3 linked regions of the Homo sapiens genome follow. The protein of the gene in region 1 interacts with the protein of each later gene in a pairwise test. Each region holds a gene or a part of one and is shown in the gene's direction. Other genes may lie near its edges.

What was found.
Region 2: the proteins of LTC4S (region 1) and SLC7A14 interact in binary tests that used the Homo sapiens proteins (3 or more experiments, as listed by UniProt).
Region 3: the proteins of LTC4S (region 1) and FFAR3 interact in binary tests that used the Homo sapiens proteins (3 or more experiments, as listed by UniProt).

The regions. Positions count from the first base shown.
Region 1 is NC_000005.10:179,789,263-179,797,047, forward strand, and holds LTC4S (leukotriene C4 synthase), read left to right. Parts: upstream 1-4,723; 5' UTR 4,724-4,818; coding exon 4,819-4,876; intron 4,877-6,321; coding exon 6,322-6,421; intron 6,422-6,523; coding exon 6,524-6,594; intron 6,595-6,678; coding exon 6,679-6,760; intron 6,761-6,990; coding exon 6,991-7,132; 3' UTR 7,133-7,385; downstream 7,386-7,785.
Region 2 is NC_000003.12:170,583,027-170,590,246, reverse strand, and holds the start of SLC7A14 (solute carrier family 7 member 14), read left to right. Parts: upstream 1-4,171; 5' UTR 4,172-4,336; intron 4,337-7,220. UniProt on the Homo sapiens protein: Imports 4-aminobutanoate (GABA) into lysosomes. May act as a GABA sensor that regulates mTORC2-dependent INS signaling and gluconeogenesis. The transport mechanism and substrate selectivity remain to be elucidated.
Region 3 is NC_000019.10:35,353,882-35,361,081, forward strand, and holds FFAR3 (free fatty acid receptor 3), read left to right. Parts: upstream 1-4,644; 5' UTR 4,645-4,768; intron 4,769-4,998; coding exon of another isoform or gene 4,999-5,009; coding exon 5,010-6,050; 3' UTR 6,051-6,608; downstream 6,609-7,200. UniProt on the Homo sapiens protein: G protein-coupled receptor that is activated by a major product of dietary fiber digestion, the short chain fatty acids (SCFAs), and that plays a role in the regulation of whole-body energy homeostasis and in intestinal immunity.

The DNA.
Region 1 (7,785 bases):
AGGCAGGAGAATCGCTTGAACCTGGGAGGCGGAGGTTGCAGTGAGCTGAGATCACACCACTGCACTCCAGCCTGGGCAACAAGAGCGAAACTCCATCTCGAAAAACAAAACCAAAAATAAAAATAAAAAAATTTAAAAAAAAGGGAGTGTCCCTGCACAAGCTCCTCTCTCTTTGCCTGCTGCCATCCACGTAAGATGTGACTTGCTCCTCCTTGCCTTCTGCCATGATTGTGAGGCCTCCCCAAAGTCCAATAAACCTCTTTCTTTTGTTAAATTGCCCCGTCTTGGGTATATCTTTATCAGCAGCGTGAAAACGGACTAATACACTGGGCATGGTGGTGCACGCCTGTAATTCCAGCTACACAGGAGGCTGAGGCAGGAGAATTGCTTGAACCCAGGAGGCGGAGGTTGCAGTGAGCTGAGATCACGCCATTGCACTCCAGCCTGGGCAACAGAGTAAGACCCTATCTCAAAAAGAAAAGAAAAGCTGGGTGCAGTGGCTCACGCCTGTAATCCCAGCACTTTGGGAGGCCAAGGCGGGTGGATCACAAGGTCAGAAGATCGAGACCACCCTGGCTAACACAGTGAAACCCCGTCTCTACTAAAAATACCAAAAAATTAGCCAGGCGTGGTGGCGGGCGCCTGTAGTCCCAGCTACTCGGGAGGCTGAGGCAGGAGAATGGCGTGAACCTGGGAGGCGGAGCTTGCAGTGAGCCGAGATGGCGCCACTGCACTCCAGCCTGGGCGACAGAGCTAGACTCTGTCTCAAAAAAAAAAAAAAAGAAAGAAAGAAAGAAAGAAAAGAAGAAGAACAGAGAAGCAGAGAGAAGCCAGGCCAGCTGCCCCAGTAAAGACTCAGGTTCTCACGATCCCAGGCCACTTCCAGACTGAATCAGTTCTCAGCTGTACAGCAGGTGATCTCTGCCCTACAGGGATCTGCACCCATTTACTCAGGAAACTGTCTTCTTACTATCCAGTTTTGAGAGTTTTTATATATTTTGAATTCAAAGTATTTTTTTAATCATATATATGATTCACAAATGTTTTCTCTAAGTCTATGGTTTAATTTTTCTATTTTTTTATTTTTGAGACGGAGTCTAGCTCTGTTGCCCAGGCTGGAGTGCAGTGGCGCGATCTCGGCTGACTGCAAGCTCCGCCTCCCTGGTTCACGTCATTCTCCTGCCTCAGCCTCCAGAGTAGCTGGGACTACAGGCGTCCACCGCCACCCCCGGCTAATTTTTTGTATTTTTTAGTATAGACGGCGTTTCACCGTGTTAGCCAGGATGGTCTCGATCTCCTGACCTCGTGACCTGCCCACCTCGTGCTGGGAGTACAGGCGTGAGCCACCGCGCCTGGCCCTCTCTGTGCCTTTTTTTTTTTTTCTTTTCTTTTCTTTTTTTTTTTTGTTGGAGACGGAGTTTCGCTCTTGTTGCCCAGGCTGGAGTGCAATGGCGCGATCTTGGCTCACTGCAACCTCTGTCTCCTGGGTTCAAGCAATTCTCCTGCCTCAGCCTCCGGAGTAGCTGGGATTACAGGCATGCACCACCATGCCCGGCTAATTTTGTATTTTTAGTAGAGACAGGGTTTCTCCATGTTGGTCAGGCTGGTCTTGAACTCCCGACCTCAGGTGGTCCACAACCTCGGCCTCCCAAAGTGCTGGGATTACAGGCGTTAGCCACCATGCCCAGCCTGGCACAATTTAGCATAAAGTTTTTGAGGTCTTTGTACTATTCCAGTAGGACAGTTGGTGAAACTTGAATAAGATCCGTAAAATACTTGATTACTAACTTGTATCAATGGAAATCTCTTGGTTTATAACTGAATTTTGGTTATACAAGTTTTTTTTTTTTTTTTTTTTTTTTTTTTTTTTTTTTTTTTTTTTTTGAGACACAGTCTCGCTCCGTCGCTCAGGTGTGATCTTGGCTCACTGCATCCTCTGCCTCCTGGGTTCAAGCAATTCTCCTCTCTCAGCCTCCCAAGTGGCTGGGATTATAGGTGCCTGCTACCACGCCTGACTAATTTTTGTATTTTTAGTAGAGATGGGGTTTCACCATGTTGGCCAGGCTGACCTCAAACTCCTAACTTCAGGTAATCCGCCCACCTTAGCCTCCTAAAGTGTTGGGATTACAGGCATGAGCCACCGCGCCTGGCCGAGACTGTAGATTTTTGCAACTTTTTTGTAAGTCTAAAATAATTTCAGCCAAGCATGGTGGCTCATGCCTGTAATCCCAGCACTTTGGGAGGCTGAGGCAGAGGATCACTTCAGCCCAGGAGTTTGAGACCAGCCTGCAACATAGCAAGACTCCATCTCTGGAAAAAAAAAAAAAAAATTAGAGCCTGTGGTCCCAGCTACTTGAGAGGCTTGAGGTGGGAGGATTGCTTGAGCCCGGGAGTTTGAGGATGCAGTGAGGCATGTTGAGCCACTGCACTCCAGCCTGGGCAACAGAGCACGATCCTGTCTCAAATATAAAATAATTTCTAAATAAACTTTCTTGTTCAAGCTCAGGGTCTGAGTTGTGCACTGCCTATGATCCACTCCACAGAAGTTCTGATTTCTTCTCTGTGCAATGGTTCTGCCGGCCTTTCTGCCGCCCAGAGGTCCTGGTGAGTGGGCATCAGAGACTCCTTAGGGCTCTGTGGAGGCTCAGGGAGGAGCTTTCGCTTCCCTCCTGATGCTGGTGCCTCCAGAGCTAGACAGGAAGATGGAAGCTGGGTGGCCCGAGCAGGGGTGGGGGCTTGGCTGGCCCTCCTGTCAGCTTGAGCTGGCTTGAGCCCAGGCAGGGCCCTGACAGCCTGGGCAGGCTCAGAGGGAGGGAGGTGGGAACCAAGAGACCCGGGGAGGGCTCCCGGGGCCAAGACCCAGGTCCCTGCCCTGCACATCTGCCAAGGGACTTCCTCAGAAGCTGCTGATGTTAGGCTTTGGCTTCCTGCTGTGGACTGAGGGGATGAACTCCGACGGGAGGACATTCAGGCCTTGGAGGAAATGAGAGCTTGGCTGACAGGAGGGCCTGGACTCACGAAGACACTTGGACACCCACAAGCACAGAGACATGGGTGTGTGACAACTGACCAAGGGGCATGCAGGTATGTATGCGTGGTGCACACAGACACCCTGGGCACAGCCCACTGGCACCAGCGTCAACCCCTGCGTGGTGGGCTGCATCCCACCCTTCAGGCAGGCCCTGTGGGGCAGGTTTCAGGGAGGAAGGAGGCTGAGTGGGCAGAGTCTGAGGACGCGGCCACCATCGCTCCCTGGCACTACATCTGTGTCCGGGATCTAGGAGGCAGTCCTCCATCACTGAGCCCCAAGATGACTGTCACAGCTTGGTCTAAAGCAGGGGCCGGGCCTGAGCCCTGGCCCCTGCCCTGGAGGAGCTCACAGAGCCCCCAGCTGGGGCATATCTGGTTTCCGGGGGCAGGGGCGATACCCAGAGGAGGAAGAAGGGATTCTGAGAGAGCCCAACAGGCTCCGAGCCTCAGGCTGGAGCTGAGCTTGGGGCAGCAAGGAAGGACCAGGTGCGAGGGCAGAACCATGCGGCCCGACCCCTGCAGCACGGCCTGTGGCCTCCCCCAGCTCCTGCCCGTGCTTCTGGGTCAGTCTGGACTTTGCCACTTCTGACCAAAAGCCACCGCAAACCCACTCAAGCCAAAAGAGGAAGTGACCGTTAGGCCCAACTGGGAAGGCTGGCGGCCAGGGGCACTCCAGGCAGGGCGAGGGGGGCGGCCGGGGGCGCTCCAGGCGGGGCGAGGGAGACACCCAGAACTCCAGGCAGGAGTCCTCGGGTGCCACCTTTCCTCTCCACCTGGCCCTGCGTGGGCTCTGTCCTCAGGGTGGCCCGCCGTAGTCCCCCTCCCCACTCTGAGTTTCCTGTCCCAAAGTCCTAAGGAAGTTTCCAGAACTACATCTCACCATCTTGAGTCAGCCTTGGCTCAGTGTCCATCTCACAGGCCTGGAAGGGGCAGGAGTCAGCACTGTCCAGACCACAGGGCCTGAGTGTGGGGAGGGCAGCCGTCTAGGAAGGTGGTGGAGGGTTGTTACCTTGAGGCAAGAGGGCTGCGGGGCAGAAAGACACAGCAGGTGACTGTTGTGGGAGGCCCAAGAGAGGCCTGGGAGAGGGATGGCCCACAAGGGCTGACCCTCCCGCCACCCAGGGGGCCTTGGACAGGTTTCCTCCTGGCAGGGTGGCCCTTGTGCATGGAACCCCTACAACGACTAAGGCTGGCAGGCATGAGGTTTCCTGAAGGAGAAAGAGCTTGTGGGGCCCAGTGTGGCTGGGGGGGCGCTGGGACTCCATTCTGAAGCCAAAGGCACTGGGAAGGGCTTCCGCAGAGGAGGGTTTGGCAGGGGTTGCCAGGAACAGCCTGGATGGGGACAGGGAACAGATAAGGTGGGTGGAGGAGTTAGCCGGGAGCCTGGGGCTGGCTCCAGCATGATGTGGGGGTCTGCAAGGCCCTGGAGAAAGTGGGGTGGTGCAGCAGGGGGCACACCCACAGCTGGAGCTGACCCAGATGGACAGCTTGGGCTCTGCCACGCGGGACTAGGCAAGGAAGGGGCACGAACAAGCAGGAAGTGGTGAGGCGGTCTCCAGCTAGCTGCTCTCCCCTGCCCAGACTTTGGTTTCCTCCCTGCTGGCTTGGCCTGGCTCCCTGGCTCTGTGTGGTATGGTCACACCCCCGTGCACCCCCTCCACTGAGATGGGGCGGGGAGAGCACCGAGGCTGCTCTTCCTCTCCTGGGCCGTCCTCTGAGCAGCAGACGGGGCTAAGCGTTCCCCAGCTCGCCTTCACACACAGCCCGTGCCACCACACCGACGGTACCATGAAGGACGAGGTAGCTCTACTGGCTGCTGTCACCCTCCTGGGAGTCCTGCTGCAAGGTGGGCTGGTTCCTATCTAGGAAGAGGGTGGGCCTTAGATCCCTACAGCTTGCCCTCTGCCCCCTAGGCCCAGGTGGAGGGCAGAGGTGGGGACTCCAGCCCAGGCCCAAGCTGGAAGAGGGTGGGGACTTTCAGGGAACTGGGGGGCACCTGGCTGTGAGAGCTGTAGGACTTGGGGGTGGCAAGGGTGCCAGGACAAATGGTAGGATAGCCATGGGCTTGGGGAAGCTGATCTCTGCTCTTTCCAGCTGTCCCCTCTCTGGGCGTCCCAGCAAGCGGCCCCCATTCCCTGGCTCTGCTTCAAAGGCACCTCCATACTGGGACCACGTGGAGCAGGGTAGAGGTGGGACTCCTTCCTCCAGCCCCCTAAAAAGAGCCTGCTTAATGCCTTTCTCAGACTGGCCCTAAAGGACACATTCCTTGGCCAGATATCCTTGCCACCTAAGAGACACCACTACTCCACAGTGTGTGGGCTAGGATAAGGCACAGCCTGGGGAGGGGGCTCTGAAGGGGCTGAACAGACAGGCCAGCCTGACCTCCAGCTGCTCCTGCACTGAGCTGGATGGCCACCCTGTGACACCCATCTGCAGAGGGCCCAGAACCAAAGGTGCCAGGGCTGCAGGACTCAGGGGGAGATGGTCCGACGGGAGGTCTGGGGAGGGAGCGCACAGCCAGCACTGGTCTGTGTGTGGTCTGGCCTGGCCTCACCTGACCAAGAGAAGGGCTCCTGCCCACAGAGAAACTTTAGGGCCAGCCCACCCTCTGCAACTACCCCAGCCCTGGGGTCCTGGGGTTAGGCTAGGAGAGTCCCAGCTGCAACCTCCTGGGAGCAGGAGAGAAGGTGTCTGTCAGATTTAGGCCTGGGACCGGAATGCAGGAACAGAGAAACTGAGGTTTGGAGGCACAGGGACGCAGGCTTTAGTGATCCCGGCCTGAGGCAGGGTCAGAGGGCCCTGCTGGTGGGCGCTGGTAGGTGGGTGACCAGGGACTGTTAGCTACAGGGAGTGTGCTTCCTTGCACCTGGGAGGATGCAGCCAGCTCTGCCCTCAGACTCCCGAGGCACTTCCTGGCCAGGGACCTGAAAGCTGCATTTGCCTGTGTTTTGAGAGTGAAATGATTCAGAAACAAGGACTCAAGTGGTCTCTCTCGCGGAGCAGGTGTCCCTGTGCCTGAATCACTCACCCTCCCCCATACACTCACAGGTTGGGACAGGGCCTCTCTGCGCCCCAGGCTTCAGCCCTGCCCTCCTCGCTGAATGTCAGGGACACAGGGCAGGCCAGGGATGGGTGAGACGAGAGGTCTCCTCGGGCGGGGAGGGGGCGGGGTTCCGCCTTAGGGAGGAGAGGACACGGCCAAGTGAAGGGCCAGATTGCAGGATCCCTCCCACTCCCATCTCTGGGGCTTCGGGTGTCCAGACCTGACTCCCGCTCCCCCTCCTCCCCCAGCCTACTTCTCCCTGCAGGTGATCTCGGCGCGCAGGGCCTTCCGCGTGTCGCCGCCGCTCACCACCGGCCCACCCGAGTTCGAGCGCGTCTACCGAGCCCAGTGAGGCGCGGCGGGAGGGCGCGGGGCGGGGAGCGAGCCCCAGGCGGGTCCGGGTCGCAGGACCATCCCGGCCGGCGCGCTCATCCCACCCGCCCACCGCAGGGTGAACTGCAGCGAGTACTTCCCGCTGTTCCTCGCCACGCTCTGGGTCGCCGGCATCTTCTTTCATGAAGGTCGGGGTGTGGGGCAGGGGCGCACGCGCTGGACCCCCGGGACCCGCGCAGGGCGCTCACCAGGCCCGTGCGTACCTCTCGCAGGGGCGGCGGCCCTGTGCGGCCTGGTCTACCTGTTCGCGCGCCTCCGCTACTTCCAGGGCTACGCGCGCTCCGCGCAGCTCAGGTGAGGGCCGGGCGGGGAGCGGGGCGGGGCCGGGGAAAGATCGCGGGCGGGCGGGGCTCCTGGGGAGCGGGACCGAAGCTGGGGGCGGGCGACGGGCCGGAGCCCAGCGCCTTTGGGGATTCGGTGGGCGAGCCCTGGCGGCGGCCAGAGGAAGTCCCCGTGGGGCCAGGGTTGCGGCGGGGAAGAAGCGGGCCTCCTCGCGCCACCTCCCCGCTGACCGCCGCCCGCAGGCTGGCACCGCTGTACGCGAGCGCGCGCGCCCTCTGGCTGCTGGTGGCGCTGGCTGCGCTCGGCCTGCTCGCCCACTTCCTCCCGGCCGCGCTGCGCGCCGCGCTCCTCGGACGGCTCCGGACGCTGCTGCCGTGGGCCTGAGACCAAGGCCCCCGGGCCGACGGAGCCGGGAAAGAAGAGCCGGAGCCTCCAGCTGCCCCGGGGAGGGGCGCTCGCTTCCGCATCCTAGTCTCTATCATTAAAGTTCTAGTGACCGAGACCCGGGCTGCGTTCTCTGGGTCCGCGGGGGTGGCGCACCGCGGGCTACGGAGCCTGGAGGGGCCCAGCCCGAGTCCGGGCAGCCCGGGGCGGGCTTCCTAGTGGCGGCGTGAGAGTGGCTGCGAAGGAACGAGCCCTCCCCCTGGGGCGGGACTGGATCCGGTCTTCACCTCCTACCCCACTCCCTACTCAGCCTCGGGGTCACAAGGCCGCCCAGTCCTGCCGGGGTTCACCCTCCTAGCGCTCAGCGGTCTCCTCACCGGTCCCCCTCCTCAGGGGCCTTCCCTCGACTCTCAGCCGCCGCAGTCCCTCGTCCCCTGGCCTTCACAGCTGACACTAGATAGAGCCTGTGGCTCTCTCCCCAGGTGAGGGCAGGGGTTTTTCTTTTGGTCAGCACTGGATCCCCCTCGTTAACTGTAGGTGTTCAGGGCAGCCCTCCGAGGTCCGCAGAGCTGCGGGCACCATGGGAACGAAGTGAGTCAGTGACAGGCGGTCTCAAGGAAATGTCCAGAAGCCTTGGGGATCCAGGGGAGGCC
Region 2 (7,220 bases), on another chromosome or scaffold:
TTATGGAGAAAGACAGTTTGATGTCAATGTCTTTAACACCTCACTAACAGCTGCTAATTTCCTTTTTAACAAGGAGAAAGCAAGCCTTCGGTTCCTGGGAAGGCAAAGGTATTTATCTTGACTATAATAGCATTGTTTTATTCTCATTGTGTTTGTTTAAATAGTTGCCTTGTATTTATGGCAACTGATATCAGTTTTCTATTTAAGGTAGTGATGAAAACCTCTTTAAAATAAATTAATTTAGGAAAGTGAATGTAATTAAAGGAAGGAAACACATAATAAATGGGAAGAACTGTTTGCTTTAACGATTCCTTCCATGTCAAGGAACTCCATTGGTTTGACAGTCCTGACCTCTGTCTTGACTCCATAGTTTCACTGATTAGGCAACTTTATTTACTCTGCATGGGGTAGGAGTGGGGAAAGTGCTATATTCTATTGTAAATTTAGGAATAAAATGAGCATGCTTAGGTCAGCATCCTCCTTCTTCCTTTTGAAATTTAAATACCTAGAGGATAATTTACTCATAGATAATTTGCTTATAAATTTCCAGTCCAATTGGTAGGATCCTAGCAGCAGGTTGTTTGTTTAATAGATCTTTATGGTGTGCCTATGGTAATGCTAGGTTCTGGTTGTGTGTCTTATTTTCTGTCTTCCTGCTGCTCAAAGGTACTGCTCCCTTTGGAAAGTTCCAGACGAGCCTCTAGCCAGGCTATCACAGTGTCTTTGGTTTCTCAGGTTTTGAATCTGCTCAGAGGCAAGAGTCAGGGGCACTGATGAGCTTGGGGTCCTTCTAGAAGAAAGCATCAGGTACTCATTTTCATGAATCATGAGACAAAAATGGAGAATTGTTTTTAAGGCATCTGGCCAATTCCCTCATGGCTTAACCACCATCCATTCAAGCAGGTCAGTCATGAGGGATTTTAGTCGTTACCCTTTTAATGACCCTATTTTGGCAAAAGGCCCTAGATAAGAGTGCTCTGCTGCTTCCCTGGAGAGTAATCGCTTTTGTCTCTGAGCCCCACATTTGCTTATGTTAGTTCTCTATCACTTAAGTGGTGCCCCTTTACTCTTCATTATATTGTTCTGTTGTATTTCCATCATGATACTTATCTCCACTGCTTTGTTTACTTGTTTGTGGTCTGACCCCCTGCTCTAGACTGTAAGCTCAAGGAGAGCAGAACCATTTCTGTATTGTTCATGGCTGTATCCTAAGTGTCTAGAATATGTTGAATACATGAATCAACACTTCCACATTTCAACTGTAGGAACAAGAAAACAAGGATGTGTACTTTAAAGATCTAGTTAGTAGTCACTTTGTAAGATCATTGTTGAACTCTGGAACTTCACCAATTGTTGCGGCTGTGCATGGCTCTAAATAATTAAATTTTTGTCTGCTGCATTTATATTTCTTTGTTCATTAATGCTCTACTTACAGCTGGAAAGTGTTTGCAGTGGCTTATGATAAAGTCAACAATCATCATGCAAAAGACAAGAGCTTATAAGTAAGGGAGGACCCAAGGGAAACCTTTACAAGAAATCATTGCTAAGGTATAACTTTCTACTGCAATCTATGCAAGATCGGTTCTCTAAGTTTCCTTTTCTGCTCTTCACTGGGTAAAGTTGCCTTGGACATTTAAAACTGCTTTGAAAAAATATATATTCAGAGTCCTTGAGCAATTTCTGGTGAAACTGTTCAAAATTTTCTGAAATTTATGCTTGTCCAGGTAACTGCTCATAAAGGCATCATGGCCAAATTAAATGATTTCATGCTTATTTTTCCCTTTCTCATGTTTCTTGATGTCAGTGGAGAGGTAGGCAGGAGTCAGAAGCAGCATTTTACCTAGCCCAGACAATTTTTTCAGTGGTATATATAGAAGCATGGTTGACACTTTCTGGTCTTTTAGTCTCCCTAAATACAAAGAGGTCCAGATTAGCAATTTCCAAAGAATATTAAGGGGAAGTACACCAGGAGATAGGATTGGAATCTGCTTAAGGTTGGAGGGTTCCAGGAGTTCCTGGTTTGTGTGAGGATTTCATTGAGTTTATTGGCAGTGGACTAGAAACACATATCATCATTCAAGCTGCTGATGAATGTCTAGAGTTTGTTCCTAGAATCCAAATTTTTTTTCTTTGAAATCGAAGCCATTTTGAATTACCAACCCAAGTCAATTTTACCTAGCAAAGGCAGAAAAGTCTAAACCCTGCTGTCTTGAAATATAGGCACAAACTTTTCTCAGATAGTAAATATTCATAACTATTGTGATTGTGGCTGGTGTTCCAGAAATAAAAGGCCAGGGAAATATGGAGATTTAAATCAGAAATTTATCCAGAAAAAGGTGAAACAAAGAATGCAGTTCTCCAATAATCACATCCCCTGAGCTACAGGCATACATGCAGACTTAGAGCAACACACCAACATTTTAGTAGCTGCATATTCCATGACAAATCCCATCTTCCCATCTTATCACCCTCATAATTCATTTGGACTAGAATAGACTCAGGGTTTTCTTCAGCCCATAGTATTCATACTCTTTACCTTTTACAGTGACTTCTCATGTGCTATCCCATCTAAACATCACAACCATCTTATATAGAAGGCAGGTAGACATTCCTTTCCCATTCTGAAGATGAGAGTCTGACAATTTAAGTGATTTGTGAAAAATCATATGATAAGTAGCTGGCAGAACCTGCACTGAGATTCCAAATTTCTGATTTTTTAACTTTGCACTTTTCCTACAATGTCTCACAGCTTCTTGGTGATCCCAGGAGGTCTAACATATCCTGCAGAACTACTCAAAGCTTAAAATATGGGGATATTGTCAGGCTTAGATGCTCATCGAAGGCAGTAACAAGCTTGAGGTAGGTGGACTAACCAAGACTGTCCTGGCAATGATCAAGCAACTTTCTGGGAAGAGCCCAGGGCAGACCCACAAAGTAGAGCTAGATTTGAACTGCTCCACCCTAGAGGAGTATCAGTCAGCCAGTATTCTCCCCAAACACAAGCCCAGTGAATTCATTTCCAAGGATAGGAGAGTTACATTTTGTTGCCTCCCATGTGTTTTGAGGGCTTGGGCCAAAGTGCAAGAATTTATGTAGATAACTTTCATCCAAATCAGTCTACTCAATGCTTGTTAAATAATTCATTCGGTGATGTGGCCAAGCATGCCTGGGTTGGTCCCATCTAGTCCCAATCCTTTTGGGACATAACCTGGCTCTAGGACACTCATCTTAAAGGAGCTAATACAAAACAGAAACCTTATCTCACTCTTGTCTCCGTTTAGACTGGTACTTGTCTAGCCTGACCTCACAGATGCCTCCTTCCATGTTTAAAAGATGCTTTCACTGTATTAGCACACATCACATCCTTCTTGCCTTGTGAAATTTATTTTAACAAAGGTGGGGGAAAAAGAACTCTCCTTTATTGAGCTCCAAATACCTGTCCAACTCTAGGCTAGGCAATTCTAAGAACATGATGATTTCTCAATCTCATGACAATACTGCAAGGTGGTTATTTCACAGACGAGAGAAGAAAAGCTAGAAAGTTAAATGCTCCAAGGTCATACAGATTGGAATCCTAATGGCTCTTCAAATCTCAAGTCCATGATCTTTGCACCCATAAGATGTTGTGAACCCAACGATAAACTTAAGCTTTGAAGACAGAGGTGGGTCTTGTCTTCTTTAGGAGGAGAGGAGAAATCAACCTCTCTCATTTTTTCTTTCCTGTAGGGCTCAGGGATGTGGAAGTTTAAGAGCAACGAAGGCTCCGCAGAGGATGAGGGAAGCTTCCAGAGGGCAGGAAGGAGGTCTGGACAGCCCAGTCTAGCAGGGGCAGAGCTGCGGCAGATGCCTTCCCAACGCACAGACATTGCAGAGTCCTGCTGGTCCCTGCTTTCCCAGGGCAAAGAACTGCCCCCATCCACGGCCCCCTCAACCTCCCTGCAGCCTGACATAAGACACTGGAGGTCACAACTGGAGGCTCAGAAGGCCAGCGAGGAGTTGTGAGCGGCAGACAGAGGGGAAGGCAGGGGGGCCAGGTGGGAGGTGGTCTGGTGCCAGGCTTGGGCCCAGTATGTAAGGGGTTGGGCAGGCCATGTGACTCCAAGGAGGCGGAGACAGGCGAGCTGGAGGGAGGACGAGCAGGCACGGGGAGGGGTTCGGGGGGTGGGGGCCCAATCTGAATAATTGAGGAGCTGTTCAGCAGCAGCGGCTGCCTCCTGCCTTCCTTTGCCGCCACCACCACTTCCCATCCCAGCTAGAGAGACAGCTCCGCGCAGTAAGTGCGGACTGCCAGCCACCAGCCTTGGCAGCCAGCTCGTCGCCTCCAGCCCCGACCCCGGTAAGTGAACGGCCCCCTTCGCTGCCGTTTGTCCCCCTCCGCGCCCCCCGCGCCCCAGCGGGACCCCTGCAACTGGGATGGCCGCCTCTCCCGGAATGACCCAGGGAGCCGGAGTCACCGGGAGCGGGGGACCAGGAATATGGCGCGGAGGCCCAGGGCGCCCTCCGAGAAGGGGTTCCCTGGAAGAACCGAGGAGGTGGGTCGGGCTCTTTCCTGCTCTGGCCCGGAATGAGGCCCCGACTGCCCGCGGTCTGGGGGCACCGGGCTCTGACTCGCGGGAGCTGCCGGGCGGGGCGGGGGCCAGCGCGGCTCCGGCGCCGCTAGAGCGGGAGGCAGAAGGGGAGCCGCGAGCGGAATGCGGGCAGCCTAGGTCTCGGCAGACGCCGGGCCCGTCCTGTCCCCCGCCTTGGCGCGCACCCCGCACGGGCAGCTCCGTTCTCCGCCTCGGACCGAGACCATGAAACGGAGACGCTTTTCCGGCCGCAGACTCCGGGGAGGTCGGGAGCAACGTCTGCCCTTTTACCTGGGAGCAAACTCCTCAAAGGGACTCCCGCCGAGCCCAGCACCCCGACCAGGATGGTGGCGCCCCGAGGGGCGTCTGTCCCCGGAGAGTGGTGACTCTCCCGGGAGCGGCGAAGAGGACGTGACGGGAGCGGTGTCCAGGGAAGCTCCCTGCCCAGAGCCGGCAGCCCCAGCAAGGGGAGCTCTCCTGCACTGCTTCAACCCTCAGTCTCCTCTCTTCTCCCATTCCAAAGCACATCAGCTCCCCTCTAATCCAAGAGGGCCAGGTTAGGGCTGCGTGGCCACGCGGGATGCAGCCCCCACCCTCCTTCTCTCTCCTGTGTCACCCTGCCCCCTCCCCAAATGAGTATTTTATATTGCGATTGAAGAGTGAGCAAAGCAAAGGCGAGAAGAGATGCAGGAAGGCTAGAGCAGCGGGGCTCGCTCCTGTTCTGGCACTCCTCATCCCCCCACCTGTGTGAAGCTCGTTTCCTTGAGATTTTGAGCGGAGACACTCAAAGGAACTGGCTCTGGCGAAGGGATCCCCGCCTGAGTGTCGGTGAACGTCACTGGCCCGAATTGCCCAAGGGCCGCAGGATGTCACCCTGCCTCCCCCTAGGTATAGGGTCTAGGAGAGCGCTGGGGGCAAGGTAGCTCTCCTCCTCCGACTGAGTGCAGGGAATGGCGCTGTCCGCGGTGCTGAAAGTTCTCAGAGGCTGGGTGCTAATACCGCCAGGGCCCACATTCCCTGCGAGCAGAAACTGCGTTAGAACCCTAAAGGGTTCTAAGCAAGCGACCTAGAGAAACAGGAGAAGAAGGGGCTTTGCCTTTCCCGGTTTTCTGCTTCCCCAGGACTCCGCTTGGGAAAAGGTTCCCGGCTTTCCTGAGTGGAAGAGCAGGAAGCGGGTGTCACTTCAGGATCCAGTTTTGCTAACTTCGGGAGCTTCCTCGTTCTACTTCCTATACCTGAGCAGTGAGACTTCCTGTCGGTAAAGTGTTGAAAGGCAGTTAGGGATGCTGTTTTGATAATAAACATTTCTGTGGCTTTCAGGAATCAGAGAATTGTTAGGCTACACAAAGGAGGGGCTTCATGGTTGTAGCTTTTTCCTCTTCTTAGAACCCTTCTTTCCCCACTGCATGTTATTTACATGCTCTAGATAAAGATCGCTAAGCAGCCCTGTATGTTTGTTTCTTTAGCTAGTCTTTTATATTATGGGCAAGATGGGGAAAGGATTGAGCCAATTTGGGGAGGCCTATTTGTACTGAACACCTCTATCTGCTGGGTAATAATATTTCATTTAAACTTCACAATAGCTGCCAACCAAAAGTATCACACAGAGAAGGAAACAGAAACTTGATTCCAGAGATTGGATTCAAAATCAGATCTATTTAACTCAAAGTCCAAGCCATTTTCATGCCTTCATTTTGGTATTTGGCTCTGAATAGCTGTTATTGGAGATTATAGCAGGAGAATGACAAAGGAGGGAGGCCTGCTCTTCTCTTTCACACACTCTCCTCTCTTCCAACCCTTTTCTCTTTAATCCGTTCACCCACTCACTGTCATGCACTCCCACCCTCCCAACTGCTTTTGCATGCTGCTTGAGATACCACTGTTCACACAACTTCAGCTCCAATATTATGGAAACAAGTTAGAGAACTAAACCAGCAGCCTTTTCTAAAAGAGTAGCAGGGCTTCAGGAAGTCTGGAGAACTAGAGTCCACATGTACTTTCATATTTAGAATTATACTGTTGAATTTTAGAACTAGAATAGCTTTGAATATCATTTAGCACCATCGTTTTACAAGAAAGAAAACTTGGAAACCAAAAGATGGTCATTAGTCTAAGTCACATGATTGAAAAATTAGAACCCAGTTAACTTGATTCCAGGCCCAGGGCCTTTCCCACTATTTCATGGTGTCTGAAATACTCTTCCATACTGCTTTCTTTGATTATCTTTGACTAAACGTCAGCATCAGTGAACTAAATTAAACAACATGCCAAAAATACAAACACTTAACATACAAGCATTCCTCTTACCTTTCTTCCAACTCCTTTGTCTTCCAGCTCTTTCCCCTCTGGTCCTACTATTCCAGTGTTGTCTAACCCAACATACCTGGGAGATATGACCCACCTTCCTCAGTAACAGTTTTCTCTGAAGCAGCAATTCACAAATGGGAATGGTAGTGTGTCATTTCTTTACTTGCCCTATCTTGTCTATATCTCCTCTTCTATGACCTATTCCCCAAAAAATAATTTTCCCAAAATTGGTTACCCTAAGCAACTGCCCATGTTCTCATAGGGACTGGGAAAAGGCCCTAATAAGACCTAAGGATTTTTATAAATAAAGATCATTATAAGTGCTAATATCTATGAAATGCTTAT
Region 3 (7,200 bases), on another chromosome or scaffold:
ATCACTTTTTACTTCTGTACACAGTGTACTGGCGAGAACTGCTCACCAGGAGGTGATTAGCTTCACGTGGTGTTGGAAGCAGATACTCAACAGTTGAGCTCACGGAGAAAGCACAGGAGGTGGCTACGAAATTATTATAGGAGTACAGTATGTCTACAGTAAATATGCACTTATGACTTTAATACTGCACATCTTTATGTTTGCTTGCATTTCTCTTGACTTCAAATGGCATCAAATAGAGTTTGTGTTTGCGTGCATATATTTTTGATAAATTTTAACTTTTTTGTTTTGTTTTGTTTTTAGACAGAGTCTTGCTCTGTCTCCCAGGCTGGAGTGCAATGGTGTGATCTTGGCTCACTGCAACCTCCGCCTCCCAGGTTCAAGCAATTCTCCTGCCTCAGCCTCCCAAGTGGCTGGGATTACAGGCACCTACCACCACACCTGGCTAATTTTTTGTATTGTAAGTAGAGATGGGGTTTCACCATGTTGGCCAGGCCTGTCTCGAACCCCTGACCTCAGTTGACCCACCCGCTTCGGCCTCCCAAAGTGCTGGGATTACAGGCGTGAACCACGGTACCCTGCCAATTTTAACTTTCTATAAGAGATTTGCCCAGCCTGGGCAACATGGAGAAACCCTGTCTTTACCAAAAATACAAAAAATTTAGCTGGGCATGGTGGCGTGTGCCTGTAGTCCCAGGTACTTGGGAGGCTGAGGTGGAAGGATGGTTTCAGCCTGGGACGCAGAGGTTGCAGTGAGCCGAGATCATGTCATTGCACTCCAGCCTGGGTAATAGAGCCAGATCCTGTCTCAAAAAAAAAAAAAAAAAAAGCTTTGTATCCATTTTGGCATACATAGACTAGTATGTATGGCAGTAAATAGACTAGTGGCAGTAAATAGACTAGTACCTACATATATTTTTTGTATTCGTGGCATACTTAACTTTTGCTTAATTTTAAAAATATATTTCTAGGCTTGTAGTTCCTCTGTAAGTTTTTTCAAATTGTTGCAAATCTCTGAAAATGTTTCCAATGTATTTATTGAAAAAAATCCACAAGTAAGTGGACCTGCACAGTTCAAACCTGTGCTATTCAAAGGTCAACTATATAGTCTGTAATACGTGATGGGTGTCACGCTGAGTGTCTACAGTGAGTGTTGTCTCACTTCAGCTTCACACAACGCTGTGGTTTAGCCTTGCCACTGCCGTACGGATGAGCGGGTGTTCACTACACGAAGGTACTGGGCAGAGGAGCAAACACTGACTAAATTCTAGCCTGTGCTTTGCTCAACAAGCCACATGCCTGCCTTGCTTGCATCAAGGGAAGGAGTATTGTGTTCTAATTTGAAGAAATACACCAGCCACTCCTTAGGCAGCACTTGGTGCGGGATGGGCTCCTCTGGAAAGGGAGCACCTAATTTGCACAAAGGTGCTGCACCAGGTAGCTACGATCCTGGAATGGGATGAAGAAACTTGCCTAAGGCCCTACAGCAAGGAAGGGGTAAAAGCAGGATGTGATCCTTCCAAGCAGAACCCCCAAGAGCCAGGGGACATTTGGGAAACCTGGGGGTGTGGGGGTTAACCCTGTATTTGTGGTCCATTTCGCAAAGGATAGCATCCCACATCCATGAGAGGGAGGTCAGAAGGGAGTGGCTGTGGCTGTGAAGGAGACAGACACCTGGGCACCTGCTCTAAATTACAGCAATGCCATGCACATGATGATGTATTGGAGCACAACAAATGGCAGCCACCAGCTGGGGTGCACGCACCAATTTCTACAAATGAGCTCTGTTCAGGCTGAAATGTCTACGCATGCAAGGATTTTTCTTGTAATTGATGATATATCCCCAGCGCCCAGAAGACAGAGTGGCACGCAGTAGGTGCTCAGTAAATGTTCGCTCAATGAATGAATGAATGCCTCTACTAGCCTTCCAAAGAAAGTTCTATGTCTGTTTTATCAATATGGAAACAGGCCAGAGAAATTAAGTAACTTCTTTTGGAAGCCAGAAACAAGCCCGGCACTTGTGCAGTGACAACACCAGGGAATTTCAGTAAAAACCCAAACTCCACCCCAGGGAGCCCCAGTGCCTCCTCCCGCATCACAGGGTGCCAGGGCCCACTCTCTTTGACTCCTGCTCCATAGCCCCTGCTGGGTACTGGGCTGCTTCTCCCAGTTCCTCCTGCCTCCCCCCACTTAGGGCAAATCCAGTGCCTCCCTGGGGCCCAGGAGACTCAGTGTGATCCACCCCAGGCGCCTCTCACTCCTGTGAGACCCAAACCTCCTATCAGCTCCCCCAGCAGGCCAAGTCTGTGCACCCGTGACTCCCCTGCCCCAATGTTCCCTCCAGTGGCTCTTTGCCTCTTCAGTATCCACGTCTTCATGATCCTTCCCCTACTCCATCCCCCAAGCCCTCACCACCAAATGTAATGTAAACAGCATGACAGCAAAAACTTTTTGTTCACAACTGCGTGTTGTTTTTTTTTTTTTTTTTTTTTTTTAGACACAGTCTCACTCTGTTGCTCAGGATGGAGTGCAGTGACACAGTCATGGCTCACTGCAGCCTTGAATTCCTGGGCTCAAGCGATTCTTCCATTTCAGCTTCCCAAGTAGCTGGGACCAGAGGCACATGCCACTAAACCCAGCTAATTTCTTTTTTCTTTCTCTCTTTTTTTTTTTTTTTTCCCCTGTGGACATAGGGTCTCCTCATGTTGCCCAGGCTAGTCTCAAACAACCTGTGCTCAAGCAATCCTCCCACCTCAGCCTGCCAAAGTGCTAAAATTACGGACCTGAGCCACCGTACCCAGCCTACTGCTGCACTTTTAACAGCTTAATTGAGATATTATGTACATATCATCAAATTCACCAATGTTAAGTGTACAATTCAATGATTTTTAGTAAATTTACTGAGGTGTGAGTCCATTACCATCAGCTAGTTTTAGAACATTTTCATGACCCTAGTAAAGGATTTTACTTCATGTTCATTTAAACTTAATCTTGGGCCAGGCGGGGTGGCTCACGCCTATAATCTCAGCATTTTGGGAGGCTGGGGTGGACGGATCACCTGAGGTCAGTAGTTCGAGACCAGCCTGGCCAACATGGCGAAACCTCATCTCTACTAAACATACAAAAATTAGCCAGGCGTGGTGGCGGGCACCTGTAATCCTAGCTACTTAGGAAGCTGAGGCATGAGAATTTCTTGAACCCGGGAGGCAGAGTTTGCAGTGAGCCAAGATTGCACCATTGCACTCCAGCCTGGGCGACAACAAGACCCTGTCTCAAAAAAAAAAAAAAAAAAAAAAAAACAACTTAATCTTCATTTCTACCTCCATCCCCCAGACAACCACGAGTCTACTTTCTGACTCTATAACTTTGCCTATTCTGGACATATCATATAAATAAATGAAATCTGACAATATATGTACATGGTCTTTTACGTCTGGCTTGTTTCACTCAACATAAGGCTGTAGTGTGTATGGGTAGCTCATTCCTTTTCTTTGCCAAATAGAATTCCAGTATATGGATGTGCCACTTTTTTATTCACTCACCAGCTGATGGGCTGCCAGGTAACATTTCCACTGTTGGTGACTATGACCAACACTGCTGTGAACATTTAGGACTGAGTCTTTAAGTAGACCTGAGTTTCCACTTCTCTTAAGTAAATACCTACGGTGGAATTGTTGGATCGCATGGTGAATTTATGTTTAACTTTTTAAGCAACTGCCACCTGCTTTCCAAAGCAGGGACACCACCTCCCATTATTCTCACCAGCAGTGAATGAGGCCCCTATCTCTCTACATTCTCGCCGACCATAGGCATTGTCTGACTTTTTGCTTGTGGCCATTCTAGTGGATGTGAAATCATATCTCATTGTGCCCTGTGATTGTTTGAATGAACTAATAGATCACCTGTGAAACTGGACAGCACTTGGGTTTGAACCCTAGTGGTGACATTTCACAAGCTGTATCACCTGGAGCAAGTCACTTCCCTACGGTGAAGGACAAGGATTTTATGACATAAAAGCGTTGCCCTAGAAGCAGTGTCTGCTATGGATTATGTGCCCATGAAAAGGCAGCTGCTGTCATCATCGCCACCACCATTATTATTGTTATTATTATTACATTGTCACCCCAGAGATAATCCTGCACCAGTGACAGGGAAAATAGCAGCTGGCATCCGCTGCCTGCTCACGACCACACGCCAGGCTTCCGTCAAACCACTCAACATGTATTAGTAATCTTTTAATCGACCTACATATTGTTTTAATTTGCATGTGTTAATGCGTTGATCTATGAGATGGGTATTATGATGAGCTCTGTTCTGCAGGGGAGAAAGCAGAAACATGGAGAATTTAAGTCATTTCCCCCAAATCACAAAGTCAGGAAGAAACAGACCTCACGGAGCTCGCTCTCTGTCATTGCATCACACTTCCTGCCCTTACAAGGCAAATTGGATAAATGCCATTCTAGAGAAGCAGACAAAATTCAAGTGAAGAAGGGGAGAGGAAGACGTCGGCTGGGGCCTGCTTAGAGCATCCCAGCTGAGACTGCATGAGGAGGGAGGCACGCAGTTGTGGAATTTGTTCCCCTTTTAGCATGCTGACCAGCCCTGGCAACGGAGCTCAAGGCATCTATGTGCCACTGCTCAACAGTGAGTGACGTCATGGGCACGGCCAGGTCTTTATCAGTTCTGCCGGATAAATAGCCAACTGCACTAGGTCTGGAGAGACAGCAAGGTGCTGTGCGGCAGAGCATTTGGGGTCTCAAAGAAGCAGGTGAGCCTGGGCCCGAGGGGCTGGGTGGAGGAGCACCTTGGTGCTTCTCTGCTGGGGAAGGGACAGGGGACAGGGCATGCTCAGGAAGACAGGCAGGCTGACCCCGCCTGGAAGGCACCCAGAGACAAGAGGGGTGGGCGTAGTGACCTCGTGCCCTTTTAGGGGAGATGCTGCTGGCCAGAGGCCGTTAGGGCCCCCACTACCAACTCCATGTTACTCTCTCTCACCAGTGGCCACCACCATGGATACAGGCCCCGACCAGTCCTACTTCTCCGGCAATCACTGGTTCGTCTTCTCGGTGTACCTTCTCACTTTCCTGGTGGGGCTCCCCCTCAACCTGCTGGCCCTGGTGGTCTTCGTGGGCAAGCTGCAGCGCCGCCCGGTGGCCGTGGACGTGCTCCTGCTCAACCTGACCGCCTCGGACCTGCTCCTGCTGCTGTTCCTGCCTTTCCGCATGGTGGAGGCAGCCAATGGCATGCACTGGCCCCTGCCCTTCATCCTCTGCCCACTCTCTGGATTCATCTTCTTCACCACCATCTATCTCACCGCCCTCTTCCTGGCAGCTGTGAGCATTGAACGCTTCCTGAGTGTGGCCCACCCACTGTGGTACAAGACCCGGCCGAGGCTGGGGCAGGCAGGTCTGGTGAGTGTGGCCTGCTGGCTGTTGGCCTCTGCTCACTGCAGCGTGGTCTACGTCATAGAATTCTCAGGGGACATCTCCCACAGCCAGGGCACCAATGGGACCTGCTACCTGGAGTTCCGGAAGGACCAGCTAGCCATCCTCCTGCCCGTGCGGCTGGAGATGGCTGTGGTCCTCTTTGTGGTCCCGCTGATCATCACCAGCTACTGCTACAGCCGCCTGGTGTGGATCCTCGGCAGAGGGGGCAGCCACCGCCGGCAGAGGAGGGTGGCGGGGCTGTTGGCGGCCACGCTGCTCAACTTCCTTGTCTGCTTTGGGCCCTACAACGTGTCCCATGTCGTGGGCTATATCTGCGGTGAAAGCCCGGCGTGGAGGATCTACGTGACGCTTCTCAGCACCCTGAACTCCTGTGTCGACCCCTTTGTCTACTACTTCTCCTCCTCCGGGTTCCAAGCCGACTTTCATGAGCTGCTGAGGAGGTTGTGTGGGCTCTGGGGCCAGTGGCAGCAGGAGAGCAGCATGGAGCTGAAGGAGCAGAAGGGAGGGGAGGAGCAGAGAGCGGACCGACCAGCTGAAAGAAAGACCAGTGAACACTCACAGGGCTGTGGAACTGGTGGCCAGGTGGCCTGTGCTGAAAGCTAGGTCCTCCGGGGGAGGAGGGTGTAGCTGGCATGTCATCCTCAGGGCGCTTCCTCGCTCACGCCAGGAGGGACTTGGAGTGGCGAGCTGGGGCCCGATGGGGCTTGGGGGCAGAGTAGACATCTAGCCTCCCTAAGGGTATGCGCGCTAAAGCCCAGCTCTCGATCTCACCTCCATCCCCATCCACCCACACACTATGGATTGGGCTCTGGGAAGGGGTCAGGGTGAGAGGCTGCTCTGGAGAACAATGAGGTCCTCATAGCAGCAGGCAGCTCCTGTGTTTTCTTGAGGGTGGCAGAGGAGCTAAGAGCAGTGCCCAGGGTCTGAGGGGGCTGCCCAGTGAGTGGCAGGGGCAGGAGAGGGGAGAACCCCATCCTCAGAGCTGCTCCCAGCCAGCGAGTCAGGAGCGGGGGAGACAGGGCTCCAGGGATGAGGCCGCATTCTGCTCCCACAGCGCCTTTTCCAGAAAGTTCCCATTGCTCAATAAATGTGGATCATCAGAGACATTTATGAACAATGACAGAAGAAAAATTACCCAAATAAATGTGGAAGCAAGCAAAAGAGAACAGTGTTTCCTTCTTCTCCTGTTTTGTTCTGGTGGTGTGCTTGGGCCGGGTGGGACTGGTGGATGGAAGGAGAAAACACCAGACTCTGGAGGAAAAGGGCCAAACACCAGGATGCCTGGATGCTGGGAGAGGATCTGGCTTGCAGGGATGAAAATAACAGCTGCCCTGTCTAAAGGACTTGGCCTGACACATCATCTCCTTCTATCTCTCAATAGCCCTGTGAGAGGTACCAGCATTATCCCCAGTTTCAGATGAAGGAGTGGCCCAGAGAGGTGACACCTCCTACCTGAGATCCCATAGCTGGTGGGCGATTGAAGTGGGACCAGAAGCTGGTGTCAGTTGACTCTGACACCCATGCCCCTAAGCCACTCTGCTGTTCTCCATCTGTGTGTCACCTGTGGTCACCTGGCCCAGTCAAATGTCCCAAGTCAGATAAGTCTGTCTGAGCAGGACAAATATAAACAGGCCATGATAAGAAACAGAACTAAATGCAAAGCGTATTGACTATTTGTGTGGGTTCAACCTTTTCCCAGTAAAAAAGCCCTCTTGGAAAAAAAGAAAAAAAGATAATTAGTCAGCACAATGGA